Linked DNA regions of Homo sapiens. The protein of the gene in region 2 interacts with the protein of the main gene of each other region in a pairwise test. Each region holds a gene or a part of one and is shown on either strand. Other genes may lie near its edges.

The links.
Region 1: the proteins of FAM219A (region 2) and CSNK1G1 interact in a two-hybrid assay, tested with the Homo sapiens proteins (one large-scale study listed by BioGRID and IntAct).

The regions. Positions count from the first base shown.
Region 1 is NC_000015.10:64,216,674-64,220,490, forward strand, and holds part of CSNK1G1 (casein kinase I isoform gamma-1), read right to left. Parts: intron 41-3,817; coding exon 1-40.
Region 2 is NC_000009.12:34,402,876-34,406,692, reverse strand, and holds part of FAM219A (protein FAM219A), read left to right. Parts: intron 1-728; coding exon 729-828; intron 829-3,817.

The DNA.
Region 1 (3,817 bases), on a different chromosome or scaffold from region 2:
CCACATGGTCCAAAGTAATACACCTGTGGGAGACCTTCACCTGAAAGCAGAGGGGAAATGGGGGTATACAGTGGGAGACACAAAAGCCAAAATATGAGATAACAGTATTAGCACTGAATAAAATATTTTTAAAAGTACAATTTGTGAGATTTCCATTTTCTTTCATAGTCCCTACTGGAAACTCAAACTGAGCACAACAGCTTCAATGGGAACTAATAATGATGGGAAAGGCTAAGTCATTGCACAATACGTTCAAATGAGTAGTTATTTAATACCACAGTGCCAAAAACATTTCCACTGCTATAAGATAGAGAATGGTCCCTGATCCATTGGATCTTCCCAAAAGGATGCCTGAAAGTGCAGTATCATAAAAGGCTCAAAGGATGGCTCACTGAGCTCAAAGGCCAGGCTAACATAACTTGTTACATTATCTGGTTCATGAGCACTCTCTATGCTTACTGCCATAGCCACATGGGCTATTTGGAACTGTTGCCCTATGGACAACTCAGACTGAAGAGGCAAGGTCACAGAGCGTGCAGCCTGGCCCCAGGCCAGCACAACTGGCCCTCTTTTCACAGGGAGTCTCTATAGTTTTTTGTTTTTTATCAGCTGGAGAAAAGTCAACAGACACTTAGTGTTTGGTTGCTGATAAGTGCTGATGAAAGGAAAAGGGGGAAAAAACACAAGGCTGGGTTTTCCCCAGATTTGAAATTCATAACTATTAAGAAGCCAAAATCCAGACTTTCTCACCTAAGTGGCAAATTGTGAATGAATTTCCTTTATAAAGTGCATTGTAAATATGAGGCATTCACTAAATATATAACTGGTACCATGAGAATAGTAGATATTAAATAGGATTACAGACGCCAGGCGCAGTGGCTCATGCCTGTAAGTCCAGCACTTTGGGAGGCTGAGGTGAGTGGATCACAAGGTCAAGAGTTTGAGACCAGCCTGGCCAACATGGTGAAACTGTCTCTACTGAAAATACAAAAATTAGCTGGGCATGGTGGCACGCACCTATAGTCCCAGCTACTCAGGAGGCTGAGACAGGAGAATCGTTTGAACTCAGGAGGCGGAGGTTGCAGTGAGCTGAGATGGCGCCACTGCACTCCAGCCTGGGTGACAGAGCGAGACTCCATCTCAAAAAAAAAAAAAAAAGATTATAGAACACTTAAAAAATTATCTGGTTTCACAGAGCAGAAACATTCCCATCTTATATATTTATGTATATAGTGGTCTACAGTTGCATATGTTGTAGATTATTGTTTGCTTCTGCCTCTAAGTGTTTTAACTTGAGACAAGGTCTCAGTGTTACCCAGGCTGGAGTGCAGTGGTAAGATCTCGGCTCGCAATCTCTGCCTCCCGGACTAACGCGATCTTCCCAGCTCAGCCTCCCAAGTAGCAGCTGGGACTGTAGGCTCGCTCTACCACACCAGACTAAATTTTTGATTTTTTATAGAGATGGGGTCTCACTATGTTACTCAGGCTGGTCCTGAACAACTCCCAAGCTCAAGCAATCCTCCCTCCTTGGCCTCCCAAAGTGCTGGGAATACAGGCATGAGCTACTGTGTCCAGCCCCATTCCCTTTTTATTTCTATGGGTGGGATATAGACAGATGTACATCTAACACATACTTCTCTCGAGGGTAGGTCTCACATATTTGGAATTAATAACTATTTCATATATTGTATTAGTCTATCTTGATTCATTAAATCCTAAACAACTTTTTTTTTTTTTTAGACAGAGTCTCATTCTGTCACCCAGGCTGGAGTATAGTGGCGCAATCTTGGCCCACTGTAACCTCCGCCTCCTGGGTTCAAGCAATTCTTGCGCCTCAGCCTCCCAAGTAGCTGAGATTACAGGCATGGTGTCCACCAATTTTTTTTTGCATTTTTTGGAGAGACAGGGTTTTGCCATGTTGGCCAGGCTGCTCTCGAACTCCCGACTTCAAGTGATCCATCCACCTCAGCCTCCCAAAATGCTGGGATTACAGGCGAGAGCTACCATGCCCGGCCTAAATCCTAAACAACTTGAACATTTTCTTTAAATATGTTTATTCCTAGCTTGTATCCTCTAACATATGTTACTCCTGCTAGTTCAATAAATATCTGTTCAATTGTTTTTGTTGTTGTCTTGATTCTCCCTATCTCCAAAAGAGAAAAGGATTTAATTTGAAGTGTTTTTTTTTTTTTTTTTTTTTACATGGAGTTTCACTCTGTAGCCCAGGCTGGAGTGCACTGGCGCCATCTCGACTCACTGCAACCTCCGCCTCCCGAGTTCAAGCCATTCTCCTGCCTCAGCCTCCTGAGTAGCTGGGATTACAGGTGCACACCACCACGCCCAGCTAATTTTTGTATTTTTAGTAGAGACAGCGTTCCCCCATGTTGGCCAGGCTGGCCTCAAACTCCTGACCTCAGGTGATCCGCCCGCCTCAGCCTCCCGAAGTGCTGGGATTACAGGCGTGAGCCACCACACCAGGCCCCAAAGAGTCTTTTTTTCCCGGTTGTTTTGAAGAAGTCATTTTTCAGCTTTTTAAAAATATATAAAACCCAACTAGTTGTTTCCAATGACTCCTGCTGAGACATCCAAAGCAGAACACTCTGTCCTAGAGATTTACTGCTTTTATTAATCAGACACATGGTAAATGCAGTTTGGGGATCTTTTAAATTTATGTCCTATATAAGGATTTAATGCCACTAAAATGTTATTTTCCTAATATAAATATTATATTCTTCAAAGCAGGTTGTGGCAGCGCCTGTTGTTTGCATGCCCAATATCCATTCTCCCTCTCCTTTTTTCTTTTGAGACAGTGTCTCACTGTGTCACCCAGGCTGGAGGGCAGTGGTATGACCATGGCTCACTGCAGCCTCGACCTCCTGGGACCAAGCAATCCTCCTGCCTCAGCCTCCCAAACAGCTGGGAGCACAGGCACATGACACCACATCGGGCTAGTTTCTTAAATTTTTTCCAGAGATGAGCTCCCACTATGTTGTCCAGGCTGGTCTTGAATTTCTGGGCTCAACTGATCCTCCTGCTTTGACCTCCCAAGTGCTAAGATTACAGGGATGCCTCTCCCCTTCTTTTTTTCTTTTTCTTTTCTTTTCTTTTTTTTTTTTTTTGAGACAGAGTCTCGCTCTGTTGCCAGGCTGGAGTGCAGTGGCACGATCTCAGCTCAATGCAACCTCCACCTCCTGAGTTCAAGTGATTCTCGTGCCTCGGCCTCCCAAGTAGCTGGGATTACAGGCACGTACCACCACACCTAGCTAATTTTTAAATTTTTAGTAGAGATGGGATTTCGCCATGTTGGCCAGGATAGTCTCGATCTCCTGACCTCGTGATCTGCCTGCCTTGGCCTCTCAAAGTGCTGGCATTACAGGTGTGAGCCACCACGCCCAGCCTCCCCTTCTTTTAAAATAACATAACTTTTTTTTTTTTTTTTGAGACAGAGTCTTGCTCTGTTGCTCAGGCCGGAATGCAGTGGCGTGGTCTCAGCTCACTGCAACCTCCGCCTCTTGGGTTCAAGCCATTGTCCTGCCTCAGCCTCCTGAGTAGCTGAGATTACAGGCACCTGCCACCATGCCTGGATAATTTTTGTATTTTTAGTAAAGACGAAGCTTCATCTTGCTGGTCAGGCTGGTCTTGAACTCCTGACCTCAAGTGATCCACCCAACTCAGCCTCCCAAAGTGCTGGTATTATAGGCATGAGCCACCATGCCTGGCCCAGAACTTCTAATTGTTGCAAATAGCAACTTGCCCAGTTATAACTCCAGTCTCCCTTGACAATTAGGAAAGACCAATGAGATGGAAGCAGAAATGA
Region 2 (3,817 bases):
CCTATCTTCCTGACCATCTGTAGAATCAAGTATTTTGCACTCTGGGCAGCAAAAGACTAACTGGCCACCTGCTGGTTTGTCATTATTTGTCTTCTCACCTACTGTACCTAGCCAACTTTTCAGGTTCTCCCCGGAGACACTCTTTAGGTGTCATTTGTGAACTGGAGAAGTCCTCATTAGAACTATTTTTTTGTCCAGTGGCTGTAGCCTTGAAGGCTGGTGTGGCTTGGTCAGTCAGTTCTCTGGATCCTGTGAAGGGACCTGTCCAGCACAGGGAAACAGAGGGAGAAGACCCATCTCAGACAGCACCTGCTCTCCCCTTAACCCAGACTTAAACTCACAGGAACCTAGGAAGACCTTGCCAAGCAAGTACACAGGAAGGGCCTGAGGGGAAGGGCTACTAGTATGGGAGTTAGGAGAAGGAAGTCCTGTGAGTTTAAAGAAATCATGATGGGCTTTCTGGAGGAGGCTGGACCACACAGGACTTTGAGGACAGACACCAAGTTGGGTGTACATGGAACCCAGATCCTTGGTTCTTCTACCTAGCCCAGTGTTTTTGTCCCACGGTAGATGGGTCTGCCCCTCTCTCCCTGAATGCCCTGCCTGCTCTGAGGGGTGAATGCTCACAGAAGCCCAGAGGGCAGGTGGGAAGGCTAGCTTCAGGACTGAGAGCAGCCCCCTGTCTTCACTCCCTAACAACTCTCTGTCTTACTGCTTTCTCCCCACAGGACCCAGCCGCCGCCTCCATCTCTGACGGAGACTGTGACGCCCGGGAGGGTGAGTCAGTAGCCATGAATTACAAACCATCCCCGCTCCAAGTGAAGCTGGGTGAGTGTGTCTGGGGGGTGAGGGAGATGTGGGGAGTAGGCAAGATACTCTGGGCTGGGTCTACAATGAGGTGCCACAAATAAACCAGCTCAGCCTAGATGATTCCAAGACTCAAGCCTTCAAGTCATTGGCACTGCGAGGCACCTTGTCTCCTGCAGGCAAAGAGGGCAGTTACAGTTCTCTGCAGGAGCCTGAAACTCTAAGAGGCATCTCTGAAGCCAAGAACGTTCCAGGTATTCTGGGGCATAGCTGCAGGGGGAAAAGCATGGAACCCCAGAGAGAGGACTTGGAAGTCCCATCAAACACTGGATCAGGCTGAGAGGAAGCTGCCTTAGAAGTGGGATGTTACTTGTTATGTCTAAGGGATAGAAAGGAAAGAGAGTTCCAACCCTAGAAGCCGAGCCCCTCTCCCGATTACAATCTCAGCCCATCTAGAGATCTCTGGGCCCAGTTGGCACCTATCTGGGGGAGTTTTCCCTTCGTTTCTTAGAAAACCCAAATATCTCCCTTCCTTTCTGGGTCACATTTCCCTTGTGGCTTTGTCTCATGTCCATTCCAAAGTCAGTTTACTGTGCAGCCTGATCCTGTGAAGTCCCCTCGCTTCTGGCCACTGTCCACAGCTCCTACCACTATTGCCCTCCCTTCACCTCATGGGCTGTCCCTCTCCCTTCAGGGACCAAAGTTTCACTGTCTCATGGCTGCTGTATATAACACACTTTTATGAAAACTTTGGTTTCTTGAAGAGAAATTACAAAACAGGACATACAGGAAAGAATTTACAATTAAATATAGGTCATTACTATCCTTCCAAGTTCCTCTGCCATCAAGGCCACCCTCCTGTCCATCCTCCTCCTCAGGCTCCAGCTGCCCAACAATTACTGATGCCTCCTCAGTCCTAAGGGCCCTTTGCCTACAACTTTCTCCTTCCTTTCCACAGAGGCCTGTATTTTATTATTCAACTACTATTTTTTTTTCTTACCTTGCTTGCTTCTGTCCTTCCAGACCACATCCAGGGAGCCCCTCGAGCTGTTTTTCTAAACAAGAATAGTCCTCTCCTTGGAATTTGTTTCTATTCCTAGGACATCAGATTAAAACTGCAGCCAATTTTATTTATCAGGGGTGTTGGTTGTTGTTGTTGTTGTTGTTGTTGTTGTTTTGAGACAGAGTCTCTCTCTGTTGTCCAGGCTGGAGTGCAGTGGCATGATCTTGGCTCACTGCAACCTCCGCTTCCCTGGTTCAAGCGATTCTCCTGCCTCAGCCTCTCAAGTAGCTGGGATTATAGGCGCGCATCACCACGCCCAGCTAATTTTTGTATTTTTAGTAAAGATAGGCTTTCGCCATGTTGGCCAGGCTGGTCTGGAACTCCTGGTCTCAAGTGATCCGCCCACCTCGGCCTCCCAGAGTGCTGGGATTACAGGCATGAGCCACCATACCCAGCCTATTATTGTTTAATATCACAATACAAATATTTTAACAAGCATAACTTCTTTACTCTCCCCCATCACATTCTCCTCCTAAGAGGTAACCATTCCAAGCCTTTTCAGTTTTTGTAGTTTTACTTTGTATTTTAACATAAGTGGTATCATATTGTGCACATTTTCTGAAACTTGGCCTTCCCTCTTCCACCACCTAAATCTTGGAGCTCCTTCCAATGTCATCATATTGTGACTTCATTCTTTTAAATGGTTGTATAGTAGTCTTTAGTTTGGTTTTGCCAGTTTATTGTTTGCTTTTTTCCCACTATTTCAAACAATTTCAGCATGCTTTTAAAATAACATCTTTTTTTCTCCCCATTACATTACCATCAAAGCTCCTCATGAAAATTCACAGCATTGTCCCAGTTGCACCTAGTACCACCAGGAACTTTAAGGCAAATTGCACCCCCTAGAGGCCTGGAGTGGTAATGGCAGCTGCCACCTGCTGGAAAGAAGCTGGGAAAAAGCTGGAATCAGCTGAGCACTGGCAAAGAAAGAGGGTCAAAGAGTAGAAGACAGAGATTCAGAGACATGAGGTCAGGGGAAATTTCCAAGTGAGTCACAGTAGCTGTAAAGGTCCTTCCCATCCTTACCCTCTGGAGCATTTGGCTATTTTATGAGTCATTTTCCCTAGTGTCCCTCTCCACCTAACAGTTCCTTTTCCTAGATCTGGCCTTTACTTGAGATGAGTAGGGAAGAGTAGATGGGACTCCTCCAAGACCCAGGAAGCTACTTCTGGTAACAGTTGTCACATACCAGGCAGTGGACTGGGTCACCTGATGGCCAGCTCCATGAAGCTGGTAGGCTTTGGAACCTTGGAGAACTCAGACCTTGGCAAAGGAGTCAGGAGCACCACTCAGGCAGCGTAGCCAAATGGGCTCCCCCAGCCTTCTGCCCCTTACTTTGTAGCCCCATCCTGCACCTCCCACACCATAACCTTCAGTGGCTTCTTCTTCCTTCTGCGTTAATCCCAAACTCCTCTGTCTGGCATTCAAGTCCTTCATGTTCTGAGTTTGTAACCAGAGAGGGTCTTCGGCCCCTTAGCACAGGACCAGACTTATAATTAGTGACATGGATATTTGTTGAATAAGTGGCTGAATAAATGAATTTTACTTCTCTAACCTGACCTCTCTCTTCACCCCTCTATCCAGAGCCACACTTATGCTCACTTTTAAATGCATTTTTGCACACACTATCCCTCCTTCCTAGAATGTCCACCTCTCTCCAGGTCATGGTGTCACCTAAAGGAAGCCCTCTCTGACTGCGCCATCCTTCTGTGATTGTCTCTCCCCCGCCAGCCTTTCCCTGGCATCAAGTACACACTAACTACCCTAACATGGGAGTTGTGGTTCCTGAAAAACAGGGGGCAGCCTCCTCTTTTTGCCCCCCACTGTCTGCCTCAGGTTGTGCAGGGCCAGGTACTATCTCCACCAAGCAGCAGGGGCCTGGAGTTGGGATCCCTGCCTCAGTCCTTCTAGGAGCAAGTGGTTTCACAGTGGAGGCCCAGCCCAGGC